Linked DNA regions of Homo sapiens: region 2 is linked to region 1. The links come from fine-mapping of genetic effects on gene expression. A gene starts in region 1. The other region holds a variant in brackets. All regions are shown on one strand. Distances are from middle to middle.

Evidence for each region.
Region 2: its variant is fine-mapped to the expression of MAP4K3-DT in esophagus mucosa (GTEx, PIP 0.94).

Annotation. Positions count from the first base shown.
Region 1 is chr2:39,432,744-39,442,452 of GRCh38, reverse strand. MAP4K3-DT (MAP4K3 divergent transcript) reads right to left here and starts at 5,037. Exons shown (of 6, transcript NR_037875.1): 1 at 4,918-5,037. MAP4K3 (mitogen-activated protein kinase kinase kinase kinase 3) reads left to right here and starts at 5,168. Exons shown (of 34, transcript NM_003618.4): 1 at 5,168-5,561. The coding sequence starts at 5,466. RefSeq lists silencers at 4,915-5,134, 5,205-5,564 and an enhancer at 5,895-5,974.
Region 2 is chr2:39,487,050-39,496,758 of GRCh38, reverse strand. The region is part of intron 3 of MAP4K3-DT (MAP4K3 divergent transcript); the gene reads right to left. Among named protein-coding and RNA genes, the nearest start is that of MAP4K3-DT, 54 kb to the right of the region's middle. The variant G/A (reference allele first, on the strand shown) is at 5,380.

The DNA.
Region 1 (9,709 bases):
TCTCCATCTCCATGACTGTCATCTTTAGAACTGACATTATAAGACTGGCATCTTTAGAATGTCTTTACAACAACCAAAATAGGCCGGGTGCGGCGGCTCATGCGTCATCCCAGCACTTTGGGAGGCAGAGGTGGGCGGATCACTTGAGGTTAGGAGTTTGAGACCAGCCTGACCAACATGGACAAACCCCATCTCTACTAAAAATACAAAATTAGCCAGGCATGGTGGCGCATGCCTGTAATCCCAGCTACTCAGGAGGCTGAGGCAGGAGAATCGCTTGAACCCAGGAGGCGGAGGTTGCGGTGAGCTAAGATTGTGCCATTGCACTCCAGGCTGGGCAACAAGAGCAAAACTCTGTCTCAAACAAAAAAAAAAAAAAAAGAAAGAAAAAGAAAAAAGAACACTCAAAATAATAATAATTAATATTTTGTGGGGTTACTATAGTGCCAGGCACTCCTTTCCCTGTATTTTCTTTTTGATTAATCAAAACAGCTATAGTTTTAAATAACTTCCCAAGGTTTTTCAGTCAGGGAACAGAGATAAGATTTAAACCTAGGTAGCCTGGTTCAGAGCTGTACTAGGTAAGGCTGTATAACCTTTTGGAAGTCTCTGCAGCTTAAACATATGATAACCCACCTGAAAACCAGCTCCTCACAAGCCAGTTTCTGACTTTTTAAAAAAAGTATAAATTTTTCTTAAGCATGTTTGAATTTTGTAAGTAAATTTTTCTAGCTGGTCTGTAGTAATCATTTCAAAACATATACATATATCAAAACATCACATTGTACACTGTAAAGACATTCAATTTTTATTTGCCCATTATGCCTCAATTTAAAGCTGGGGAGAAATGAAATACATAAATAATTTTTTTTTAATGATAGAATCTCACTCTGTCACTCAGGCTGGAGTGCAGTGGTGCAATCTCAGCTTACTGCAACCTCCTCCTCCCAGGTTCAAGCGATTCTCATGCCTCAGCCTCCGGAATAGCTAGGATTACAGGCACGTGGTACCACTCCCGGCTAAGTTTTGTATTTTTTTTAGTGGAGACAGGGTTTCACCATGTTGGTCAGGCTGGTCTCAAACTCCTGACCCCAGGTGATCCACCCGCCTCGGCCTCCCAAAGTGCTGGGATTAGAGGTGTGAGCCACAGCGCCTGGCCATAAATAAAAATTTTTTAATTAAAAAAAGAAACCTGATTTTTTTAGCTCCATTGCCACCATCTCCCTCTGTCTTCAGAATTTAAGCACAATTGTCTGTTGTATGTGCCATATTATTTCACATACATGCTCTCTGTGTGATTTTCCTCCCCTGGTGGATGACCTGCTTCTGGCATTTTTTTGAGCTAAGGCTTGCTCAGTATCCTGTTTCCAGAGCAGCTAATGTACTGAAAATGTGAGTGGTGGTTATGTTATATGAGGAGGGCTGAGGTTAATAGGCCAAAGAAGGGGCTCCAGTGAGTTGTCAGACAAGAGGTCGAGGATGAAATTGGGAGCCTGTGCAGGGGATCAAGGGGTTCCTAAGCCAGAAACCCATGGGGGATGGGGCAATAGAAGGATGGCCTGGACATGCTGGCAGGTGGGGACTGCTGCCTATCTTGGCCTTCTTGTGTTCCTTGCTGTGTGATGCTTAAACGGGTAGGTGCTTCAAGGCGCTAAGCAGCCAGCCTGTCATGCACCACTTTCCCTTGTCTGCCTATGCATTTTTCAAGGTTCAGCTTTAGGGTTATTCCTTTTTTTTTTTTTTTTTTTTTTTTTGAGACGGACGCTTCCTCTGTTGCCCAGGCTGGAGTGCAATGGTGCAGTCTCAGCTCACTGCAACCTCCACCTCCCGGCTCAAGTGATTCTCCTGCCTCAGCCTCCCGAGTAGCTGTGATTACAGGGGACGTGCCACCGCGCCCAGCTAATTTTTGTATTTTTAGTAGAGATGGGGTTTCACCATGTTGGCCAGGCTGGTCTTGAACTCCTGACCTCAGGTGATCCACCCGCCTCGGCCTCCCAAAGTGTTGGGATTACAGGCATGAGCCACTGCGCCCAGCCAAGGGGTCATTCCTAAATCTTCCTCCCGTCTGCATTAATGTCCCTTCTCTGTGCTTCTCACACTATTTATGAGACTGTCAACTCCTTGAGGGAAGGCATTGTGGCTTTTCTTTTCTGTATTCAATACCACCAGAATCTAATAATCATTGCCTCTAAATACATTACAGGGAGGTAGAGGTTGGCTTACCATAAGAGAAATTTTTTACAGTATATTGTATATAAGCAGAGTATAGACTAGTGGCTAAGAATCTAGCCTTGGTGTCATACTGCCTTTGTTCAAATTTCAGCCTTCTGTGTTACCTTGAGCAGTTTAATCTGTCTGTGCCTCATAAAATGGAGATAATATTACCTATGTCATTAGGTTGTTGTGCGAATTAAATGAAATAACACATGAAAAATACTTGGCTCCATTCCTGGTATCTTGTAAGCACTTAGCAATGTTAGAAATTACTACTTTTCTCCTAGTTATTATGATCATTTACTAGCACTGTATCACAACGAGGTGGGTTGTTTTGGGAAGCAATGAGTCACCTTTTATTGAAAGTATTCAAGCAGCAGCAAATCCAGCAGAGATGCTGTAGAAGCAGTTCCTGAGTTAAAAAGATTAGATGACTTCTAAGAATGCTTCTAATCATAGAAGAGGGAAGCTCTTTCTCTGATTCTAGGAAAGTGTGATCATTAGTGTTACTTCTAGCAAAACTGAGGATTGTTAGAACAGGGGGAAAAGGCACTGGAATTGGCCACATGCATATATTACAAAAAACAAAATATTTTCTTTGTGAGCAGTTGTTTTACTTATGTTGTAACCCACATGGCAAATCAGGCCCTTACATGGAAATTCATCTCTTCTCAAAAGGACTAGCTTGGCCCTGCCAAAATGGAACAGACAAAACTTTAAAGACTGTTCTAGCCCTACTGAAATGTCTTTTCCTTTTGAAAGCAGTCTATTAGTGATGCAAATGCAAAGTTATTTGGACAGACGATAATCTCAGCAAACAAAACACTGAAGTCATTAGAACTTTCTTGTGCAGCTTTCAGTCCTGAGAATTTGGCTTTCTGGCACTAAAAAGGCAGAGGCCGGGTGCAGTGGCTCATGCCTGTAATCCCACCACTTCAGGAGGCCGAGGCAGGCGGATCATCTGAGGTCGGGAGTTCAAGAGCAGCCTGACCAACAAGGAGAAATCCCATCTCTACTAAAAATACAAAAATTAGCTGGGTGTGGTGTTGCATGCCTGTGATCCCAGCTACTTGGGAGGCTGAGGCAGGAGAATCGCTAAGAACCCGGGAGGCAGAGGTTTCAGTGAGCTGAGATTGCACCCTTGCACTCAAGCCTGGACAACTAGAGCGAAACTCCTTCTCAAAAAAAAAAAAAAAAAAAAGGCAGAGGAAAAGAGCAGACCTGGCTTCCATTTGGGATAATTTGTCAGGTCTGCTTATCTGAATCCTTGGCTAATTATTCTTGCGCTTGGCCTAAACATGCCAAACAATTCTCCAAATGTGGACAAACTGAAGGAAGGCCTGTAATCTGGGTCCTGGGCAAGTACCTTAAACAAGCAAAAGCAAGACCTTTGGCTATGGAATAACATTTATAGTCAGGAGTTTCTCAAGATACCAGAGCCTGAAGGTAGATCCATCGAGAAGATATTCAATGATATGCACTCCTAAGGCAATAATTTAAGTGATACTTTCATATTACTGATGCTTTAAAATTTAATAATTAAAAATTACACAACTGAAAGGCTACTTATATAGGTGAAGAGATAACCATTTTCAAACATCAATTTAGTCAACAGATACTCAAAGTAAACAATTTGAGAATTTAGTACATATGCAATTTTCCTATGAGCAAAAGGATTCAAAAGATTTTTTGAAAAAGTATGAAGCAGTTAACTCTAAGTAGTTTGCTCTACTATTAATTTATTATACTTATCCTTAACAGGTTTGATGAGACCTAGTTTCTCAGGAGCCACGAGGTATTAGGGAATATTAGTGGTTAGAAGGTGTGGTGCCTAAGGGGATTAGGAAAGCATTTCTGAAGCAAAACTCCAACGTGGTATTGCCAAAGTGGCCATCACCTAATTGATTAAAGCTCCTGCAAATGTCTATTGGGAAGTTCAATGAGAACAGAAAAATAACCTTCCATTACCCTCAAGCTTTCTTGGGCAAGTATTAACAATCGGAGCTGGAGTCCACATAGCTCAGATGTAAGACGCGCAATCTGGGTCTTAAGCAGGGTGGGGTTTTTGGGTAGGTAAGGTCACAGCTAAAGAGCTTCCGGATCGTCACGTGTTTATATTTCAGGTGCGGTAATAGATCTAGTCCACTCTCCACCCCTTCTTTACAGGGTTGCTTGACAGCCTGCGCAGTCCCCGCCCGTCTTTGATAATCCAACCCTCTTCGAAGAGGGAGGTCAATCACTGCTTTAGTTCTGCGCTCTGCCTGCCTCCCACGCGGGATGGTGGGCAGCTGTTCCGCGTGTTTTCCTCCCGGAGCTTTCACGCTCTGCCCACTGCACACACCTCCCTCGCGGCCCTCCTGGCCTGCCCTCCTTTGCACCCTGGCAGGCCAACTCCAAGGGTCCGAGTGTCGGTGACAGGGGCAAGCAAGCACAGCTCACTTTTCCTGGGGGTTTTCCTCACGGTGTGTTTAGTGACCCCTCCCCGCAATCCCAGAAAGGCTGCAGCACTCCATGGTATCCTACATGTAGCTGCTTCTAAAATAATAAAGGCTGGGACATTGGCTGTCTTGGATATTACCACTATGCTACCTGCTTGGAACTGGGACCAGATAGACCAAGGTCCAACTTTGTCGTTAGGGGAATCAGAAACGAAAAGAAGCCACTTTCTGCTAGTCCTAACCCCGGTCCCTGGGCCAGGCAAACCTTTTCAAGCGTCCGGCGGCAGCGGCCGGGCGCGGGTCCGCAGAAAAGCCGAGGCGTTTCGGGTCCCAAGCTGTTCCGCCGCCGGCCCCGGCCTGGCAGGCGCGCGGAGCCGGAACGCGCAAGGGGTCGGGTGCGCGCCAGGCCTGGCGCGCTCCCTCCGGGATCGCGGCTGCGCAGTCGGGCGGGAGTCGGGAAAAGGGGAGGAGGTTGGAGGAGCCGGAGTAAGGGGAGGGGGAGGAGCGGCGAAAGCGGAAGCCATGTTGGAGTTTCACCCCGAGCGAGGGGCTGCGAGGGTTCTCCTCTCCTTGTGGGTGTGACCAGGTTCGGCGCGGCGGCGGGCCGCGGGGGGCGGGGACGATTGGCCGCTTGTCGTCGTCCGCAGCGGCGTGAGGGGAGCGGCGGCGGCGGCGGCGGCCGCAGCGTGGAGCCGGGTGATTGTGACCGCCGGGGGAGCCGGGAGCCGGCCGCGGCGCCCTCTCTCCGTGTGGCCCCCTGAGCGGCCCCCCTCCCCTGCCCGGGAGGGAGGCGGGGGGCACCTGGGGCCCGCCATGAACCCCGGCTTCGATTTGTCCCGCCGGAACCCGCAGGAGGACTTCGAGCTGATTCAGCGCATCGGCAGCGGCACCTACGGCGACGTCTACAAGGTAAAGGCAGGGGCCGCGCGCCGCCGAGGCCGTGGGATCCCGACCCGCAGCCAAGCCTGGGCGTCCGAGCCCTTGCCGCCTGTCCTCGGGAGACGCTGGCGCCAGGGAGCAGTCGGGGAGGAGGAGCTGCGGACGCCAAGGGCTCTGCTGCCTTGGTGAACAAAGGGCCGAATGTTTAACCCCGAGACCTCCCCAGCCCTTACCTGAGCCCCCCCGGTGGACATGATTTTTGCCACCTCCCTTCTTGCGCGCATTTCCAGGGAAGGGCAGAACGAGAGCAGGCCACACTGCTCATCCATAGTGCAGAGAAGGTCTGGGCGTTTGTTGCGTTGGCAGGGTCAGCGCGACGAACCGGACAGCAGGGGTCTGGTGTTGTCAAACCTGCCTGCTTCACGCCAACCTGGGGTCGTCCGCTCTAGGTTGGGAGCTGCTGCCCACCAGGCCTCGGTGGTAGTTATTATACTATGCTGAGCGACCTCCATCTTCCATCGACAGCTCTCAGCCTTTAGCGCCTTATTCATCCCCCTGTCAGTTTCTTTTAATTTTCCAGAGTAATGACTTTTTTTTTTTTTTGGAAAGAGCAACTTTGTTTTCTCTAAGTCGAATTGGACTGCGATGCCATTTAAACTTGTTTTTTAAAAAGTGACTTGAATACTTAGGGAAGGTACTGGTTTGACAAGGTTAGAATTCAAAGTCCAGTAGCGGTACAGCATTCCTGTTGTAGAGGGACCACTTCTAAATGTGGGAAGATAAATCACTCTTCCCTGGCCAACTCAACTCTTGGCCTCACAGTTACTGCCAAGAAGAGAGGAGGTTGTTGCCAAATGTGGCAGCAGTCTTGATTTAGTTGTGTATCTTCTTACTGGTAACTGAAGTTGAACTCCTCCAGTTTCACATAACACCTGAGGATGCACAAAGAAACTTAATTTTGCATTGGAAAGTTCAGTCTTAACTTTATTTTGCCCATGTTTAAGCAGGTTTTTACTCTTCAGTGTAATGCCTGTGGTAACTTACATATTTAATACAGTGCAGCCAGTGTTCTGCTTTAGTCTGATTTTCTGGATGATCTACTTTTCACCATCGTGGATCTCATCACTTTTCCTACTATGCAATATAGATATATTGAGCCCACCTACAATGTATGAGATACTTGGCAAGTAAGCACTTTGGGTTGTAGCAGTAAACGATAGACTTGGTTCCAAATCTTCCTAAGTGTTTCTATTTTTTTGGACAAGGACAGTATTAAATAGCCATTTAAATAATTATTGCCGTTTAATTTTGTGATGCAGAAAAGAGTATTAGGATCAGGGTTATGAGAGCATGTAATAGGAGGACCTGATCCTGTTTAGGGTATCAGACGCTCATCGCCTTTCAGCTGAGATCTCAGAGATGATTAGGCGTTGCTTAGGGTACTGGGGAGAGGGGATTACGCCAGATAGGGGAGCATGATATGTGAAGGCTCTGAGGCCCGATGTGAAAGAAGGCCTGTATAGCCTGAGCAGCCAGAGCGGGAGGGTGGCCCTAGATCTTGCAGGCCTCTTAGTTCTCATTAGGAGATCGGACTTGTTTAGGACAATGGGGAACTATTGCAGGCTTTTAAGCAGAGGAGTGACATTAGATTTAGGTTTTTAAAAGAGCTCCCTACTACAGCATGAAGAGTGGAATGGAGCAGTTGGGAGGCCACTGTGATAGTCTAGGTAAGAATAATGGTGTTAAGGAATATGGTGATGACTGTGAAAGTAGAAGTGGATGGATGCAAGTCACTTATGACTGGTTGGGGGAGTTCGCTTATATTGCGATGAAAAGTTAACTAAAACTCGATGAATGTATACGTTTTAGGTGGCAGGGTATACAGTGAATTTTTTTACAGGACTAATTGGCTGTGTACTTGCTATATTAAAAAGAACAGTTAGTAGTTAAGCCACATGATTAAAAAGCAAAAAAAAATTAGGGCCTGTAATTTCCTAAGTGTAATAGAGGTATACTAAGTTGGTTAATCTTGTCATTCGTTTAAAATAATGATAATACTAGCTGATGTTTATGGAATGCTTGTTACTTGCCAGGCACTATAAGATTTTTCTAATTAATCCTAACAGCAACCCTGTGAGATAGGTGCTATTGTTAACTCCATTTTGCAGTTGAATAAACTGAGGCACAAGGAGATTAACTTGCCAAAGTTGGTAGGTGGCAAAGCCAAAATTTGAACCAATTAGGGACTGTATTCTTAACCAATTGGCAGTGCTGCCTCTCTAAAGATAGGAGATGGGCAGATAATGTATTACATTTCCAGTGGAGAAACTGAGGCACACATTTAGTTTAGCATTTGAGTTGTAGCCACACTCTGAGTCAGTGTAGATCTTTAAGTAGTAGTTGGAATACCTAATTCCTGCTGTGCCACAAGGTCTCACTGTTTATGTAGTCTGCCAAGTGGATATCAGATAATAGATGCTTGGTCCCTGCCTGCCAGACTCTTCCAATACCAGTGACCAAAGCAGAGAAACTTCATGTGGTTCTTGACATCATGTACCCCTGCCTGCCAAACTCTTGTTTATGTTTTTGTCTATAATCAAGTTTATTCTATAAAGTTACATTTTTTTGTTATTTGTTTTGCTGTTTTAGTTTTTTCTTATTTATACAAATTAATTGTGCTAGAGAGAAGTACATTTTGTTTTCAAAAGCCAATATATATAATTTGTTCCTTAATTTGTCAGCATTTACGTGCTAAAAATGGAATGATTGGATTAAATAAATAAGAGATCCGATTATAGTCATTCTTGGAAGGTTGGTGGAGATTTTTATTTTGAAAATGTTTTCCTACTCAATGTAATAACATATTTATTGTACTTAAGGTGGCGTGGTTTAGTTCCAAAGCACTGAACAAGGATGTGGACAATCTGGGATTTATTAGCTATGTGACCTTGTGAAATCAACCTCTCAGAGCTGTTTTGTTGTGGAGATATTATTACCATCATATGCCCTTCTTCTTTTGGTATTGACTAAATGACTCAAATTTTACTTAGTAAGTAAGTTATCTTTATTTTTTTCAGGCCAATGCATATATACATTTTATCTGCACTGTCTAAAGTCGTATCTTGTAAGTGTCGTGTAACTCTGCAGGCTTTATCTGTCATGAAGTGCCTGCAGCTTGGGTTACCTAGGGACCTAGGAGCTGGCAACTGAAGCTCTTTAGTTGGGCCTCAGGAGGCCCATGGAGTGCTCTGAAATTAATAGGCTTAATGTTGTATGTATTTGTGTTTTTCTGTGGAGATGGGTTATAGCATTCATTGCATTCTTAAAGAGCTTCATGATCCAAAAAAATGAAAAAATGATCCATAGGTTTGCCATTCAAAAAAGTTTTCTTGGAGAAATTAGGTAGTTATAATAGATCATAATATGATTTTCACATGCATTGTGCCATCTTTTGTCAGGCAGTTTTCCAGTTTAATTTTTATTATTCCTACCCTTTAAGTCTTGATGTCCTTATGTTTTTCTAGATTTTTTGCTAGAAAGAAGCAGGAGATAGTAAAGCTGGAGATGGGATAAGGCAAAAGAAGTTTTGAAAGAATAGTCTCAATATGGTTTCTGAGGAAGTATCTTACCTAGTCTTATGGTTTTAGTCTGGTCCCTGTGAATGATTCCTAGCCTGTGTATCCAAGACTGGATACACAAAGACTCCAGGCTGTAAGCCTTAGAGTCATCTTTAGTGACTTCTGGACTGGGCTTCTTAGGCATTAGCTAAATTCTGTACACAGGCATTTTCCAAAGTGTGGTTGGGGTGCTTCAGGAAAAGCCATACCATGAGTAGGTTAAAGACTGAGAAGTCCTATGGTAAAGAAACCTGGTAAACTTTGCTTAACCTAGCAAACTCCAAACTTACTTGACTATTAGATTCTTTTTCTCTGTAATACATATTGCTTGTCCTTAGTACTAGTGTTTTGTAGAACATGCTTTGGAAACGTTGATATTGATTTTTTTTCACCTTTGTGTGTTTGGAAGCCATTCCCTCTGAAGCACGGGCTGCCGTGTTGTTAAGCTTCCAGGTAGGATTCACATCGTAGTCTGTGTAAATAGATTTAAAGTGTCTGTGAAAGCTGGCAGGAAAAAAGGTGAGGATTGGGCAGTAAAATAAGGAAACCAATTTATATGCA
Region 2 (9,709 bases), 54 kb before region 1:
TTTTAGATCACATGTGTTGATCATTACAGTGATGAGATGGTATTAAAATGCTTGACAAATTGGTCTCCATGGCAGTGCTTGTAGTCCCAGCTACTCAGAGAGGCTGAGGCAGGAGGATAAAGTGAGCCCAGGAGTTCGAGTCCAGCCTGGGCAGCAAAGCGAGCTCCTGTCTCTAAAACAAAATACAGACTTGACAAACACCTACTGAAGGCAATATGATCATTACTTACAGAAAGGACAGGATCAGAGCTAGGAGAGTGAAGGACTAGATTTATGAAGCTTCAGTCCCTTCTTTACGGGCACTGAAGAGAAACAGTTCAAGTCCTCCAGTTGTCCCATAGGCTTTGTCATATAAGAATGGATAATTTGCTACAAGCTCGAAATGGCAAAACCAATTACCTAATGTTGCTACTGTACTGACTAATCATCTTACTCATGAAACTATCTACACCTTGCAGAGAACTTTAAGAAAACCACTGGGCATGGTGGGTCGTGCCTATAATCTCAGAATTTTGGAAGACCAAGGTGGGGGCATCCCTTGAAGCCAGGAGTTTGAGACCAGCCTAGGCAACACAGCAAGATACTGTCTCTACATAAAACAAAAAATAAGAAAAGTTAGCCAGGCATGGTGGCTATGCCTGTAGTCCTAGCTACTTGGGAGGCTGAGGCAGGAGGATCCTTGCAGTGAGCACTCCAGCCTGGGTGATGGAGCGAGACCCTGTCTCAAGAAAGAAAGAAAGAAGGGAAGAAAGGAAGAAAGGAAGGAAGGAAGGAAGAAAGGAAGAAAGGAAGGAAGGAAGAAGGAAGGAAGGAAGAAAAAGAAAGAAAGAAAGAAAGAAAGAAAGAAAGAAAGAAAGAAAGAAAGAAAGAAAGAAAAACCTTGCAGTATACATTTTCATAAGCCCAAAAGTTACTTCCTTCCATTTATTGCAAGGCTATAAGAACCCAAATGTCTGCCTGTTATGATTTTAACCAGCACTTTTCTACAAGTGAGTATGTTCAAGAACCCCTAAAAAGACTGTAATAATCAGATATCAAGCACCTATATGAGGTAGCAGGAGGAAGAAAGAGGCAGTACAAACAACAATCCACACATAATCCAGTAATGCAAGCTCTGAAATTCCAACACTTCATTTCAACTGCTTCCCCCAAAATTCCATACCATGTTCTTGCTTTTGGATAAAGTCAGTGACAAGAAACGAGATGGTCATACAGCAGCAGCAAAAATATAATCAGGAAATATAATGACTTTGTAATATCCCTGTGCGAAAGAAATAAACCTGAGTAGTGAGAGGAACATGGGTCTTGGATTAGGATATAGAACAATGTTTAAACCCTGGTTGGCCAGGTATAAGCTATGTAATAACCTTGGGCAATTCACCTAATTCCTCTGAGTCTTAATTTCCTCATTTCTTATATGTGGTAATTGTGCCTAATTGAGAAGATGCACAATAGAAATTCAATAGTAGCTCTAATTACCATGCAACAACCTTCCTGGTCCACTGTGTGGGTTTCTTTCAGGCTGTGAGTAAGTGGACATGGATTTCTGTAGCTAGTCTCTGCCAGAGGATATGAGTATTTCAAGAAGCAGGAAGGGCTGGAGGTGTGTGAAGGCTCCCCCGCTCCTGCACTTCATTTGTACACTCTCATCATCACTGGAGGAGTCTCCTGGCTGCAGTTGAGCCTTCGATGAGATGATTTGCATCACTCACATTCCAAGCTGGGTGGGGGAAGCCCAGACATTCTCGCTCTGCCCCTCAACCAGCTTGGTGCCAGATTTCCTCTCGCTTCACCCCCCCAGGAGGTCATCTAGGGAGCAGGCATCACACAGTAGCAACAGGCCTTGCGGATGATGACATCATAGGCTATTTTGCCCACTCTGTTTATCTCGCACTGAGAGGCAGGAGAGCACAGTAAGGAGCACAGGTTTTTTGGTTTGGTTTTGTGGGTTTTGTGGGGGTTTTTTGTTTTTTGTTTTTTTTTTTTTTTTTGAGATAGACTATCACTCTGTCACCCAGGCTGGAGTGCAGTGGCACGATCTCAGCTCACTGCAACCTCCACCTCCGGGATTCAGGTGATTCTCGTGCCTCAGCCTCCCAAGTAGCTGGGATTACAGGAGCACACCACCATGACTGGCTAATATTTGCATTTTTAATAGAAACAGGGTTTTGCCATATTGGCCAGGCTGGTCTCAAACTCCTGACCTCAAGTGATCCTCCTGCCTTGGCCTTGCAAAGTGCTGTGATTACAGGCGTGAGCCACTGCACCTGGCAAAGAGCACAGGTTTTGAAGTCAAACAGACCTATCTTCAAAGTATGTTTCTGTCCTGTGCCACATCTAAACCTTAATTCCCTAAGCTGTAAAAGATGATCAAATAGGCCAGGCACGGTGGCTCACACCTGTAATCCCAGCACTGTGGGAGGCCGAGGCGGGCAGATCACCTGAGGTCAGGAGTTCCAGACCAGCCTGGCCAACATGATGAAACCCCATCTCTATTAAAAATAAGAAAATTAGCCGGGCATGGTGACATATGCCTATAATCCCAGTTACTCCAGAGGTTGAGGCAGGAGAATCACTTGAACCCAAGAAGCGGAGGTTGCAGTGAGCCGAGATCATGCCACTGCACTTCAGCCTGGGTGACAAGACTGTCTGAAAAAAAAAAGGAAAATCAGGATTTCTAAGAGATATCTCTACTCTTACGTTCATTGCAGCATTATTCATGATAGCCAAGATATGAAAACAACCTAAATGTCCATCAACAGATGAATGGATGAAGAAAATATGGTATACATATACAACAGAATATTATGCAGCCTTCAAAACAAAAGGAAATCCTGTCATTTACAACATGAATGAACCTGAAGAACATTAAGCTAAGTAAACTAAGCGAGACACAGAAAAACAAATACTGTGTTGATTTCACTTATATGTAAAAACTAAAGTAGTCAAACTTAGAACAGCAGAGAGTGGAATGTTGGTTGCCATGAGCTGGAGGGATAGAGGAATGGGGAGATATTGGAAAAGGGTTACAGAGTTTCAGTTATCCAAATGAATGAATTCTGGAGATGTATTCTACAACGATGTGACTACAATTAGCAACACTATATTATATACTTGAAATTTGCTAAGAGGGTGGATCTTAAGTGTTCTCACCACCAAAAAATAAAAAAGAAGGGAAAGAAAGGAAGGAAGAAAGAGAGAGAGAACAAAAGAAAATGGTAACTATGTGAGGTGATGGATATGTATATGATATATATGCATATTATATATATATGATTTGATATGGATATATGCATATATATGCATAATTGAAATATGTACATATTTAAAGTGTACGACATGATTTGATATGCATATATATGCATATATATCCATATATATGCATGGATATGGATATGGATATATATGCATGGATATATATGCATATCAAATCATCATGTTGTACACTTTAAATATGTACAATTTTCAATTGTCAATTATATCTCAATATGGGAAAAAGTCTTGTCATGAAGGAGATGCTTAATAAATAGTAGTTAATGTTATTATCTTTGATTGATTTGTCTTTGAATAAATTTCTGTGGCCTAAATGAGGAAGCATATTCAAGGCATATATCCAAATATTTGTAAGAGTAGAGGAATGTTCTTAATCCAAATTATATGCACCAGTATTGCTCACTTGAGTGGAAGGAAATTATAGAATGGAGTATTAACTTCCTAATGACTAGACAAAATTAGTTGAGTAAATTACCCAATCAGTTCAGGAGAAGAAAATAAAAACCTGATTCAAAGGGTTTTTTTCCCCTCTGTGGGTTCATTTTATTGCTGCAACCCTCTAATTTGTTTTAGTTATAAAGACATGGCCATTTCATTTTCAGTTTCACCCAGGAACTAGAACTATATTTTGAAATAGGGACAACTGGATTTAGAAAATCACTTTTGTACAACTAGAACTCATTTACAGCTAGTTATTCAAATATCCAGTGACAGCATAATAAAAATTTAGGGCCTTCTTTTAATTAAACACTCCAGTTTACAATTCCCTGGAAGTAGTAACACATATTTGGAAACTGCTCTCTTTCGTGTTTTTAAAATAGCATCTAACATTAAGACAGTAATTTATTAAGAAATAACTTGCTGATCTGAAAGTGTTGATGTGATTTCAAAATGTCTTTAGAATGCATCCAACTCGATGAGACTTATATGCATGGATTTGGAGAACAAGGAGCTTATCATAGGACTTTCATAGCCCTCTCAAAATGGCAAATGAAGATAAACTGCAGAAATAGGGACTGCATGTTGCAATCAAAAGGGAACCTGCCCACAGACTGAAACAAACTTGGAAAACAAATGAACGGAAGATTAAACAGTGAAGTCTAAGTACTATCACTTCTTCCCCTATGATTAAAGCCTGACAGGCACCATGAGTCAAACTGTAAATATATACTAGTTATCATAGACCTCACTGGGTTTATGCGTCAGTAAACCACAGCTGCCTCTAATTTACCATTGAAACATGTTTTAGGGAAATGAAACTAGCCACCACCTCCTTTCATGCATGTGATATACTATTCATAACCAAGCCCTAATGACAGAAGAGAGCATTCTTAAAATAGTCTAATGGCTTTTTTGTATTCAACAATACAATCCCCCTATATTTTTTATACCTAACTCACCACATATTCAAGAATTTTCCATCATGTGCTTAACTTTAAATTTTTAAATGGTTTTCTTCACCTGAGCTGGCAGCTTTACTATTGCACTAGTCCAAACATATAGATGGGAGCGTCCTTAAATATGCAGCAAGACACACGTGATATAAATAGGAGGAATCATAGTATAGGACCACCTAATAATAATAAAGCCAATGTTTACTTAGTGCTTACTATTTACCTAACATTGTGCTAAGCACTTTTGAAGAATTATTTTGTTTAATCAGCAATTCCAACAAGACAAAATTCCAGTGTCCCAGATGATAAGACTAGCGAAACTTAAAAATCCTAATGTTAAAAAATTAAACCGCTAAGTGAAAATTAGTTTTTCATGGGTGATTTCTTGGCAATTTATAAAATTTAAGTTTTCCTAAAATTAACTGTAAACTGATACATATTAATCATACATAGCAAATGTCTACAGTCAAATTTTAAGCTATTTCTCTGCTTTATTAGCCATTTATATCAGCTTTTATACGAAACTTCCTTTTCATAGGTGCAATTGAAGACAAAGGATCAAAGCTTTTTCACTGGGCACGGTGGCTCATGCCTGTAATCCCAGCACTTTGGGAGGCCGAGGCGGGCAGATCACGAGGTCAGGAGATCGAGGCCATCCTGGCTAACATGGTGAAACCCTGTCTCTACTAAAAATACAAAAAATTAGCCAGGC[G/A]TGGTGGTGCACACCTGTAGTCCCAGCCACTCAGGAGGCTGAGGCAGGAGAATGGCGTGAACCCAGGAGGCAGAGGTTGCAGTAAGCCAAGATCACTGAACTCCAGCCTGGAGGACAGAGCATGAGACTGTCTCAAAAAAAGAAAAAAAAAAAGTTTTTTGTACTTTAAGCTAACTTTCATGAAACTATCCTATCATCAGAAACCCACTGCCAGTGGGCACAGTGGCTCACGCCTGTAATCCCAGCACTTTGGGAGGCTGAGGCAGGTAGTTCACTTGAGGTCAGGAGTTCAAGACTAGCCTGGCCAACATGGTGAAACCCCATCTCTACCAAAAATAAAAAAATTAGCCAGACGTGGTGGTGCGTGCCTGCAATCCCAGCTACTCGGGAGGCTGAGGCAGGAGAATCACTTGAACCTGGGTGGCAGAGGTTGCGGTGAGCTGAGATTGTGCCACTGCACTCCAGCCTGGATGACAGAGTAAGACTCCATCTCGAAAAGAAAAAAAGAAACCCCACTGCCACCTCTGAAAGATCTTCGGTGATTTGGGCCATTCATTCATTCCTCAGACTTAACCACCAACTGCACACCACACCCTGGGGATACGAATAAGACATGAACTCCACCTTCAAAACACATTCAGCCTGCTGAGAGAGATATAAACAAACCACAGCAAATATAATGCACAATATCATATAACAGAGGTAGAGAGAATGGAGGTCAAAAGGAGAAAGTAATTGAAAAAAAGGCAATTTTTGGAAGGCTTCACAGAAGCAGTGACACTAAAGGTAGCATCTTTTTTTTTTTTTTTTTTTTTTTTTGTGAGGCAGCGTTTCACTCTCTTGCCCAGGCTGGAGTGCAGTGACCCAATCTCAGCTCACTGCAACCTCCGCCTCCCAGGTTCAAACAATTCTCCTGTCTCAGCCTCCTAAGTAGCTGGGACTACAGGTGCACGCCACCATGCCAGCTAATTTTTGTATTTTTAGTAGAGATAGGGTTTTACCATATTGGTCAAGCTGGTCTCGAATTCCTGATCTCAGGTGATCCACCCACCTTGGCCTCCCAAAGTGCTGGGATTACAGGCATGAGCCACCTCGCCCAGCCTAAAGCTAGCATCTTAAATGTAGATGAAAATCTGTGATGTTCAGTATGTTCACTCTACTTTTTTTTTCAAAAGATGAATTACCTTTTCATTAATGTTTCCCTTTTTTTTTTTTTTTTGAGCTGGAGTCTTGCTCTGTTGCCCAAGCTGGCGTACAATGGCGTGATCTCAGCTCACCGCAACCTCCGCCTCCCATGTTCACGTGATTCTCCTGCCTCAGTCTCCCAAGTGGCTGGGATTACAGGTGTGCACCACCACACCCAGCTAATTTTTGTACCTTTAGTAGAGACAGGGTTTCACCATGTTGGTCAGGCTGGTCTCAAACTCTTGACCTCAAGTGATCCTCCTGCCTCAGCCTCCCAAAGTGCTGGGATTACAGACATGAGCCACCATGCCCAGCCAAAAGATGAACTACCTTTTTAAAAAAGCATAGGATTGTCGCCAGGCGGAGTGGCTCATGCCTGTAATACCAGCATTTTGCGAGGCTGAGGCGGACGGATGACAAGGTCAGGACATTGAAACCATCCTGGCTAACACCGTGAAACCCTGCCTCTAGTAAAAATACAAAAAATTAGCCGGGCATGTGGCGGGCGCCTACAGTCCCAGCTATTCGGGAGGCTGAGGCAGGAGAATGGTGTGAACCCCGGAGGCAGAGCTTGCAGTGAGCCGAGATGGCGCCACTGCACTCCAGCCTTGGCGACAGTGCGAGACTCCGTCTCAAAAAGAAAAAAAAAGGCATAGGATTATGTATCTAATTTACCTACTATTCCATTACTATTTTACATCCTATTTCTGAATTTCTGTGTCTTCCGCCACTTATCTTGACTTAATTTTTTTCTTTTAAGTAACTAGTCATATTGTTGCACTATCCACATAAAAATTACTTCCAAAGACTTGTGATAGAACCCAGTGATGTCACACCTAGATATATAACTCTCACAAGGAGACACATACAAAAACATTTATCATGCATTGTTTGTAAGGGAAAAATAATGGAAACAATTTAAAGATCTATCAACAAAAGAATGAATAAACTGTGGTCTTTTTATACAATGAAATACTATCTAGCACTTTAAATAAACTAGAAGATGTGTATTGGCCTGACGCAGTGGCTCACACCTGTAATCCCAGCACTTTGGGAGGCTGAGGAGGGCGGATCACTTGAGACCAGAAGTTCAAGACCAGCCTGGCCAACATGGCAAAACCCATCTTTACTAAAAATACAAAAATTAGCAGAGCGTGGTGGCAAGCGCCTGTAATCCAGCTACTCGGGAGGCTGAGGCAGGAGAATCGCTTCAACCTGGGAGGCAGAGGCTGCAGTGAGCCAAGATCGTGCCACTGCACTCCAGCCTGAGAGACAGAGTGAGAATCCATCTCAAAAAAAAAAGAAAAAAAAAAAAAAGATGTGTATTAGGGGCCAACCATGGTGGCTCACACCTGAAATCCCAGCACTTTGGGAGGCTGAGACAGGTGGCTCACTTGAGCTAAGGAGGTCATGACTAGTCTGGGCAACATGTGAAACCCTGTTTCTACAAAAAATACAAAAATTAGCTAGGCATGGCGGCGTGTGCCCGTAGGCCCAGCTACTTGCAGGGCTGAGGCAGGAAGATTGCTTCAGCCCAGGAGGTCAAGGCTTCAGTGAGTCATGATCACACCATTGCACTCCAGCCTGGTGAACAGAGTGAGACTGTTTAGAAAAAAAAAAAAAAGATGAGTATTAATACATGTTGAGTGAGAGATTAAGAAGAAAGCGCATAATATATCATTTAATGATGAAAAACTTGCAAATCAACTTTATGTCTTATGGATACATATATAGTATAAATATAAAAAATAGCTGGGTGTGGTGGTGTGTGCCTATAGACCCAGCTACTTGGGAGGCTGAGGCGGGAGGATTGCTTGAGCCCACTAGTTCTGGGCATCATATAGTGACCTCCCAGGAGCAGAGGGCTACCTGGTTGCCTAAGGAAAGGTGAACCCACCTGTGTGGGAAGCAGAGCAGGTCAAAACTCCTGTGCTGATCATAGTGGATTGCACCTGTGAATAGGCACTGCCCTTCACCCTGGGCAACACAGGAAGACTCCAGCTCTTATTAAAAAAAATTTTAAATAATATAAAAATACACAGAGGAATTAAAACTCTAAATTCAGGGTAGTTGTCACCCTGCAGATCACAAGAGAGGAATGAGATAGATTGGTTTCAGGGGTTTTAACTACATCTATATGATTTTAACTTTGTCAGCACTTCTGGTGGCTTGTTGAGGAAAAAAAGGTTTTAACTTGGAAGAAACAGAGGAAAGGGGAAAAAAGGGAGGGAGGAAGAGGGCAAAAGGGGGAGGGAGGGAAAAAGGGAGATCTGAAGCAAATATGGCAAAATTTTATTACATGAAATACTATCTAGCACTTAGGGCTGGATTGTAGATAGATGATTTTTTGTCATATTATTTTGTATGCTTTTCTGTCTGTTTGAAATATTCTATTGTAAATAGATGTGCTAATCTTTATAATAATAATTCATGGTATTATTCACCAAATTTAACAGCCTAACAAAAGTTTAGAAGTAAAAAATTAGCAAGTGGCACATATTTTCCAGTTCTACTAGTAAAGAAACTTGTTTGCATCTGGGGAAGATAATATTTGCGGTGTAACTTCCCCACTCCCTTTCCAGCACATCCTTAAAGGACTCAAATGGAATGTCGTCCTATGACAAAGAAAAGTGCTTGTGCATATTAACTCCTCTGCTGCTGAACCAATTTGTGACAGGATGAAAGCGCTACTAGGAAACAAAGTGAAGAAGGATGGACACTCTATTCAGTATTTATAAATTTCTAGGTTTTTCCTTTTCAAGCCCCCTTAGAATCTTTACGAAAAAGGTCAACAGTTTAGCATGCCTCCAAATGAAAAATGTTATGTTAATGTATTTGCTAATAAATAATTCATTTCAGAGGCAAAATTAAAGGCTCAAGTTGGTAAATAAAGCATCCAGCACTATATCCATACGTGGTCTCTGACATCAAAATAGGATGAAGGGCCGGGCATGGTGGCTTACTCCTGTAATCCCAGCACTTTGGGAGGCCGAGGCAGGTGGATCACTTGAGGTCAGGAGTTCGAGACCAACCTGGCCAACATGGTGAAACCCCATCTCTACTAAAAATACAAAAATTAGCTGGGCGTGGTGGTGTGTGCCTGTAATCTCAGCTACTCAGGAGGCGGAGGCAGGAGAATCACTTG